Homo sapiens: one gene and its partner. The protein of the gene in region 2 interacts with the protein of the main gene of each other region in a pairwise test. Each region holds a gene or a part of one and is shown on either strand. Other genes may lie near its edges.

The links. Proteins that work in one complex are often made in the same cells at the same time.
Region 1: the proteins of SVIL (region 2) and CENPF interact in a two-hybrid assay, tested with the Homo sapiens proteins (one study listed by BioGRID).

The regions. Positions count from the first base shown.
Region 1 is NC_000001.11:214,601,366-214,605,118, reverse strand, and holds the start of CENPF (centromere protein F), read right to left. Parts: upstream 1,925-3,753; 5' UTR 1,798-1,924; intron 1-1,797. UniProt on the Homo sapiens protein: Required for kinetochore function and chromosome segregation in mitosis. Required for kinetochore localization of dynein, LIS1, NDE1 and NDEL1.
Region 2 is NC_000010.11:29,633,296-29,637,048, forward strand, and holds the start of SVIL (supervillin), read right to left. Parts: upstream 1,677-3,753; 5' UTR 1,125-1,676; intron 1-1,124.

The DNA of each region.
Region 1 (3,753 bases), on a different chromosome or scaffold from region 2:
ACATAAACAAAAAGAAAAATCATTCATTTTCCAGTTACTTAGGCAAGAGTTTGAGAATTTGTTTTTTTACTAAATAAAGTTAACGGCCATTTTAATGGTTTTTTTCAATCGATTTTATCAATGAAACTTTTTATCAAAACAATAAGCAGTTCATGAAAGTACTAAGAACAATAAAAAAAATTAAGAGGGAGAAGCAAAGGTCTTAGACAACATATAAGTTGGATATCAAAGCCCTGGAAAGCTGTGTTTTGCTACCAGTTTTGTTTTTTTTTCTAGCTCTCAGTTCTTGGAACACAGCATCTTGTATTCCACTCCCATTTATCCCAAAACTACTGAAAGGAGTCACATGCCTCTCAACCAACAAAGGACAACTGACCCTGTCTCAATATCCTCCATTCCAATCTAGTTTGTCAGGAGTCAAAGAACTGTACCCAGAGACACACAACTGTAATTGCCCTAAACAATTCAGCCAGCAACTGAAATCATTACATCAAGATGCTATAGCCAACAGAATATAAAAAGGAGCAATTTAGAAAGATGATTAGAAAATGAGGGGAATAAACATAAAGAAGACTGGCAAGCTGAATGCTTTTCCATTCCAAAGTCTAAGATAGAGAACAATATAGATGTAGACCAAGCTAACTGTGATTAGAGCAGATTTTGGCCCATTAAGGGATCAGCTATCAGCCACCTGTATTGGGCCATTGGGGCAAAAGAACAAAAAAATAAACCCAGAAGTTTACTTTTGAGGAACAGGGAATCGAGGTGGGGAGTGAAGAAAAGCCCTGGATGAAGGTTCCTGCATGGAGGACTTGCAGGACTATTGTCCTTTCCAGAAAATGCTGTATCTTTATCTCTTAAATACGTGGAGGGCACTCTTCATGCCCGAACTACCCAGTCCCTTAGTCCCCAAGGAAGCTCTTGTGTGACCTCCTCCTGCCCCACCTCCACCACTGCTTTCCCGTTGTCAGAATTCCCCACCTCCTCCAAAAAGCCAGAGTCCCCGTGCACTGTACCAAGGCTGGGTCTGAGAATGATAACCCTGCCTTCTCCTCTAGGTCAGGCTCAAGGACACGACCCATGCCTTTTATTTCTGGGTCCTCATTACACAGCCGAGCCGGGCACACAGGCGCGTTCAAATAAATGTGGAAGGGAGGACCGGGCGTAGTGGCTCATGCTTGTAATCCTGGCACTTACAGAGGCCAAGGCGGGAGGATCCCTTGAGCCCAGGGGTTCCAGACCAGCCTAGGCAATATAGGGAGGCCTATCTCTATTTAAAAAAAGAAAAAAAAAAATGTGGACGGGAGGAAGAAGAGAGGGGAAAGAGAAATGCTCGCGTAACTAACCATAGGCACCCCACGTCGCCAACCAGATCAAAACTCAAGCTTACATCTACTCAATAAAACAAAGGACCAGGGCCTGAATTTCAATAAGGTTGGTTACGGGACTGGGAAGGCGGCTTGGAAATACCTAGTCATCTCCAATTCTTTTACGGAGGAAGAAAATGATCCCCTAAAGTGTGAGTCCGTGACCGAGTAGGGTCTGGGACACTAATCCGAGACCAGTTTGAACCCGAGCAGAAGGGCGCAGACACCCCTACGAACCACATCCCGGGGCGGATTCTCCAGTTCGGTCGGGTGGGAGGGGGCGGTCCCCGGCACCTACAGGGCCGGGAGAGTGATCCCAGAGGCCTCCCCGCCCAGTACCCGCCGGCAAAAAGCCAGCGGCACCCCCACGCCGCCCGCCGCCTACCGCCCGCCGCCAGGGCCAGGATCCGGACCCAGTCAGGACGCTCACCTTGCTCTCGGGGACGGGAAAACGACCTCTCGGAGAGTACAGTTCTGGCGCGGCTTCGGCGGGCTGGAGCCCAGAGTCTAATTCAAACTGCCCGCAGCCGCCACCGGTGCCCAATTCGCCCGCTTCTGGTCTCAACCAAACTTACCTCCACGCCTATTGGTCACTCTAAGTAGCTGCGGACCAATCCGCGCCTGCGCACTCAGACTGCCGCGTCTGATTGGCCCTTTCGGATGGATTTTAAAAACAAGCCCTCTACTGGAGGTGCCTGCGCCGGAGTTTACTGTTCTTTTTTGTTGTTGCGGGGAGACGGAGACCACGTGCTTTTGCTAATGCTAGACGCGGTTTTGGACCGCTATTTCCGCAAAAGTCAGGGAATGCGCCCGCTGATTAGGAAGGCGTGGTCTATCGCCTACAGCCAGGGGAACTGTGCTGCCTGGTGAAACCTCTTTTAAACTGCACGTACCAATCTACTTAATTAAACGTAAATTTAGGACATAGATACTAGGTGCTGTGTTTGTCATGCATTCTTTATCCGGTGTCGTTCTTAACAATTCTTTGAGGAAAGTATTATCCTCATTTTATTAAAAAGTTAACAGGCTCATAGAAGCTAAGTACAGTAATTTGAAATTGAATCTACGCAATGCAGGATGTCGCTCTTAAATGCTGTCCTTTATGGTTCATATTTCTAAGACGTGATTCTGAACACTTATTTTCCGGGATTAAGGCGTGGGGGGAGGACACTGCATCAGAATTTAAAATTCAGAAGAATCCTCAAAACGGGGTGTAATGCTTTTCGTGAAGCCCACTAGTTTTCTATGTATGTTATATACTCGTTTTATTTCCCTATTAAACTATAAATAAGCTTCTAAAGGCAGAAGCAAAACAATTAATTGTTAAAGTAATAGATCTCTAATGCTGTTGTCTGCCTCAATAGGTACCAAACTTTCCAGCCCCCTGACTTTACCTTTCATTAGACTGTTCCTGCAGTACCCAATTCAAGTGTCACTTTTTTTATAAAACCTCCCTAATCCCACCCACTCCTTAGAGATAATTATTTCCTAGACCTTTCCTGGAACTTGCAAACTTCATGTTTAGGATTTTCGCCGTGTCTTGTCTTGTATTTATGTCTACGTCTGACTCCCCCATCAGACTCAAAAATTCCTTTACAGTAAAATCTGTTTTAATTCATTTTTGCATCCCTAGTAACTTTGCACATAGTAATTTAAAATCCAGATCATCTTGGGAGATAAAACTGCTATTTGGGGAAAGGCCTTGTTCTTACTATCTTCTACCTTCGAATCCCCAAAGGGAGGGGAGAGAGCAGGTAGGGGAGGAAAACTTTTGTCAGACATTGCCATGATCAGTCTAGTGTCTGGTAGTTTTAGAATTTGAACCAAATTGTGTCTGGCTTCAACACAAATTACAATTCCATTGCTTCCCAGAGTAATTATTCAACTATGTATAGGCTGTTTAAGGAAAAATAAACAGCTAGAAAGACAGATAATAGAGGATATTTTTAAGGTTTGAATAAGAAATTTGCATTTACTATTCATTCATTCGTTCTTCAGCAGATATCTATTGAGTGGCCACTGTATAGTCAAGCCTTGTGCTTCGTTTTTCTACAATGAACAATAAAGAAATACATTCATTTCTTGAACAAGGGAAATAGGATGGATACCATTCTAGTAACTCCTGTGATATTTCTCTGACTTTAATTTTATGCTTCCCTTCCCCTCCCTTTATTTTTCCCCCGGTTGGTTTGTTTGTTTTGTAGGGGGAGGATCCCGTCCAACCAAAGACAGATGTTCTCTAAGGGTCCATTTTTGGCTCTCTGCTCTTCTCTTTTTAAGTCCTTTCCCTCAGTTAGCCAGTCTACTCTCTCTGGATTGTTCATCCACTACCTCGATATTCTGCTTGTGGACCAGTGTCTTTGAGTCTTCCCATCTTTTCTACAGA
Region 2 (3,753 bases):
CTGCCTGGCACTGGGCTGCTCTTCTTTGGAGACAGAGGGTACAATTTATATCCTGCAGTTTTACTCAACAGGGGATACCACCAGCAGTTTGGCCAGGGTAATGCTGTATGGGACTGTCCCCTACACCATGTAAATTGGGCATTTACAATTCTTAACCACATCCTCCCAAATGCCAGTGAGTCATTGAGAAAACCTGAAACACCCCCATGCATTTTCAAACGCCCCCTAGGGTTGCCACACTATCTCCGGTGAAGAACCCTCGCAGTATTCACCGATGAAGTTCTTCTCTATAAATACTCTGTTTTCCTACCTGGTAAAAATAATGACTGCCCGTACTTGTCCATCTGATGTGGTATAAAGAAATAATCTTTTTTTTTTTTCAAAGAAGCAACACGTCAAATAAGCCTTCTATGTTCTAGAGTTCACTGCTGTTTTTCAGCAGAAACAAATCACTGAGCTAAATTACAAAGAGACCATAGCAATCTCCAGGGCTTTAAAAGGCTGATGCAGTATTTTTTCTTGGAGAATTTAAAAATAAAATGCAGTTCAAACTCTAGAACCTACAGTGAGGTTTTTCTCATAAATTCTGGAACATCGCAAGTTCTAGAAATCAAGCCCTGAAGAATGAGAGTACCAAGGCAAAGAACCCTCAGAACAAAGATTATGCAAAAGGATCACTGGTGATTTTCTATTTTTACATGAATTATAATGGCAGTGAAATAAAACTTGCCCTTCTGAACTCCACCCCCATACTTGTGCTACGATTATTAAAGTACGTTGCATTGTGAATATACTTTAATTCCAAGACTTTAAGTGCTAACATTTAGACAGAATGTACTAAGTTATATTAATCAAATTTTTAGTATTAAACCTTTCTCTACCATAAAGTAAATCCTTTAAAAAAAAAAAAAAGTCCAATCCTTCTCAACCCAAGAAATATGCCCAAGGGTATCTACAGGAATGGCTGCAGTAACTGGCAAACGCTGGCAGGAATTTTCCAATGACTGAAGTCAACAAATCCTCAGGAAACATGCTCAGACAGATGGCACTTAAAAAAAAGCAAAAACAAAAACAACAAAAAAAAACCTACTGCATTTAGATTTATAGGAAGATTTTTCACTTACTTCAAATTTCTGTATAATCCTCGTTCCTCTAAGTTAAAGGGGGAAAGAAAATCACACTGCAATTCCTTATTTTTCTAATTTAAAAAACAAAACAAAACACGTTATACCCTCGAATCCAGCTTTTGATGTCTTCGAGTATTTTCTTGGAGTCTCTTTCCAATGAATACTACTTTCAAATTCTAAGCACAAAGTAAAATCCCAAAAGTTAGCCCAAATAGCGTTGTACAAAATCAAAGATCACGATGTCAGCAAGCAACTGCATCTATCAGAAGCGATGATGATTCAGAACAGGATAAATTTAGAATGGTGTTTTCCAAAAGGCTTTTTGGATGTCAAATTCAGGAAACAGGTAAAGGCTACATCCCAAAAGTTCCTCTCCAAAAAGAACGCCAAAATATTAATAAAAAGAGTCTTCTTTTTGAAGTTTTTCGTCCCCTAGTGTCCTCGAGGCTGAACTTCCCCAACCTGGCCTCGGTGGAGCCATCCATTACTGGGCAAATCCACATGAAACCTGAGGACACTTCAGCCTGGGGAGGACGCAGTCAGAGCAGTGAAGCAACTTCACATGGGACGGGCCTTTTATGGCCTGAACTCGAGAGCCTTGATACCAGCTCATCTACCAGAAATAGCCCTGGAAATTCAGAGGAGCCCATCAGCTGTTGCAGCAGGCCTGGCCAGCAGCTACTTCAAATGCAATTAGGTTGTCCACACTGTCTTTCAGCTTGTTGTATAGAGAAATTAAAAATACAACAGCAGTCTACTGAATAAGCTACAACAATACAGATTTGGATGAGCAAACATTTCTCTAACTTAGTTTTTTTAGGCTAAAAAAAGAGCACACAATCGTTGACAAAGCTCAGACACTGAACACCCCAAAAGTAAGTAACAGACATATATACAATGAATGCCCGAAAAGTAACTAACAGACATACACATCTATGAAACAGCATGATATAATGGCACATGTCTCTACAAGTTTACAAATTCTGTAACCTCTGTGGATTTCTTCCCACTTCCAATAACTGTAGAAAATGAATCATCAGAAGAAAGCATTGTGCTGGAAGTACTTTCTCGAAAATGACACAAATATTTTCTCTTAAAGCCAAAGTCAGTCCTCTGAACTGGCAAGATCTATCTTCCTATGGCTCTCAGGTAGCTCACCTCACTGAAAAACCAGATGAACCTAACCTAATGAAAAAAATATTAACTATGAAGCACAACCACTTCTTAAATGGCCATATGCATTTTTTTAAACATTAAAAGGCCACTGACATGTTGAATACACTCAAACAAATATCACAACCCTGTTTACAAAATACTTACAATTGTAGGTCTCTGTCCCTGTCGGTACCAAGAACAGAGAGTCTTAATTGTCTGCACCAACTTCAGTATAAACCACAAACCCCATAAGACTTGGGCTGGAGTACAGCAAAAGCTGTGTGCTGCGCGGGGCCTCCCAGTGGTATGCCTCTGGGTGTCAGGGTTCTCAGACCACCAGCTGCTTCGGCCAGCACAGGAGGCCTCTCAAAGCAGGATCTAAATTCCTGTTACTAATTAACCCTACAGAACAATGCCTCTCCCTAAGAGGACAGTCCTGAGGCCAGGTGAAAAGATGACAGGTATAATAATTAAACATTGGCTTCATGACTGTTTTGTGCTAGGGGTATTTGTCCCAGTCAACTGTTTTTTTTTTTTTTTACCCATCTCAAGATAACAAACAAACAAAATTTCATAGCATGGCTTTTGCATCCTAATCTCAGTCCTGACCCTGATCTTCTTTTCCCTTGGACCATATTGGCTTTTTCCTCATTTTAAAGTTTATTTGATCTTGTTTTACGTATTTTTATAAGCTGTGGTAAGCCCCTCCCTAGAGAAAAGTAGGGCAAAAATAAATAAAAACTTACATGAAACAGTTCACTATTTGGGTCTTCTCTGTAAAGAGAAGATAGGAGGAGAAAATGAATCACTGTTACCACAATAGTGCTATTTCCTTCCTAAAAAAAGATTCACTCCCACAAAATAAACATCAGTCTTTTGTGTGCCTCTTAAGTTTTTGCACACTGCTTCCCCATAGCAACCAAACTGTCCTAGATTAATACACTGGAGTCTAATAGGGTAAATCTCCTTCGTCACTTCTTTTATATATCCTTTCTGTCTTTGATTATTTAAATCCCAGTTAATTCTTCCTGTGCAATCCATTTACTTTCCTAATTTTTTTGCTATCTGCCTGGCTTAGAAGACTCATCATACTCACTTCTTTCCAATGATGATAATCATGAATTGGAAGAAAAATCAACACACAAAAGATGTCAATTGTCCCCAAACTGATCTACAGATTAACAAAATTCCTATCAAAATCTTGCAAGGTTTTTTTGTTTTGTTTTGTTTTGTTTTGTTTTTTTGAGACATGGTCTTGCTCTGTTGTCCAGGCTGGAGTAGAGGTGTGCAATCATGGCTCACTGCAGCCTCAACCTCCCCAGGAGGCAGTCCTCCTGCCTCAGCCTCCTGAATATCTGGGGCTACAGATGTGCACCACCACACTGGGCTAATTTTTTAATTTCTTAGTTTTTGTAGAGATGGAGTCTCATTAGGTTGGCCAGGCTTGTCTTGAACTCCTGGGCTCCAGCTG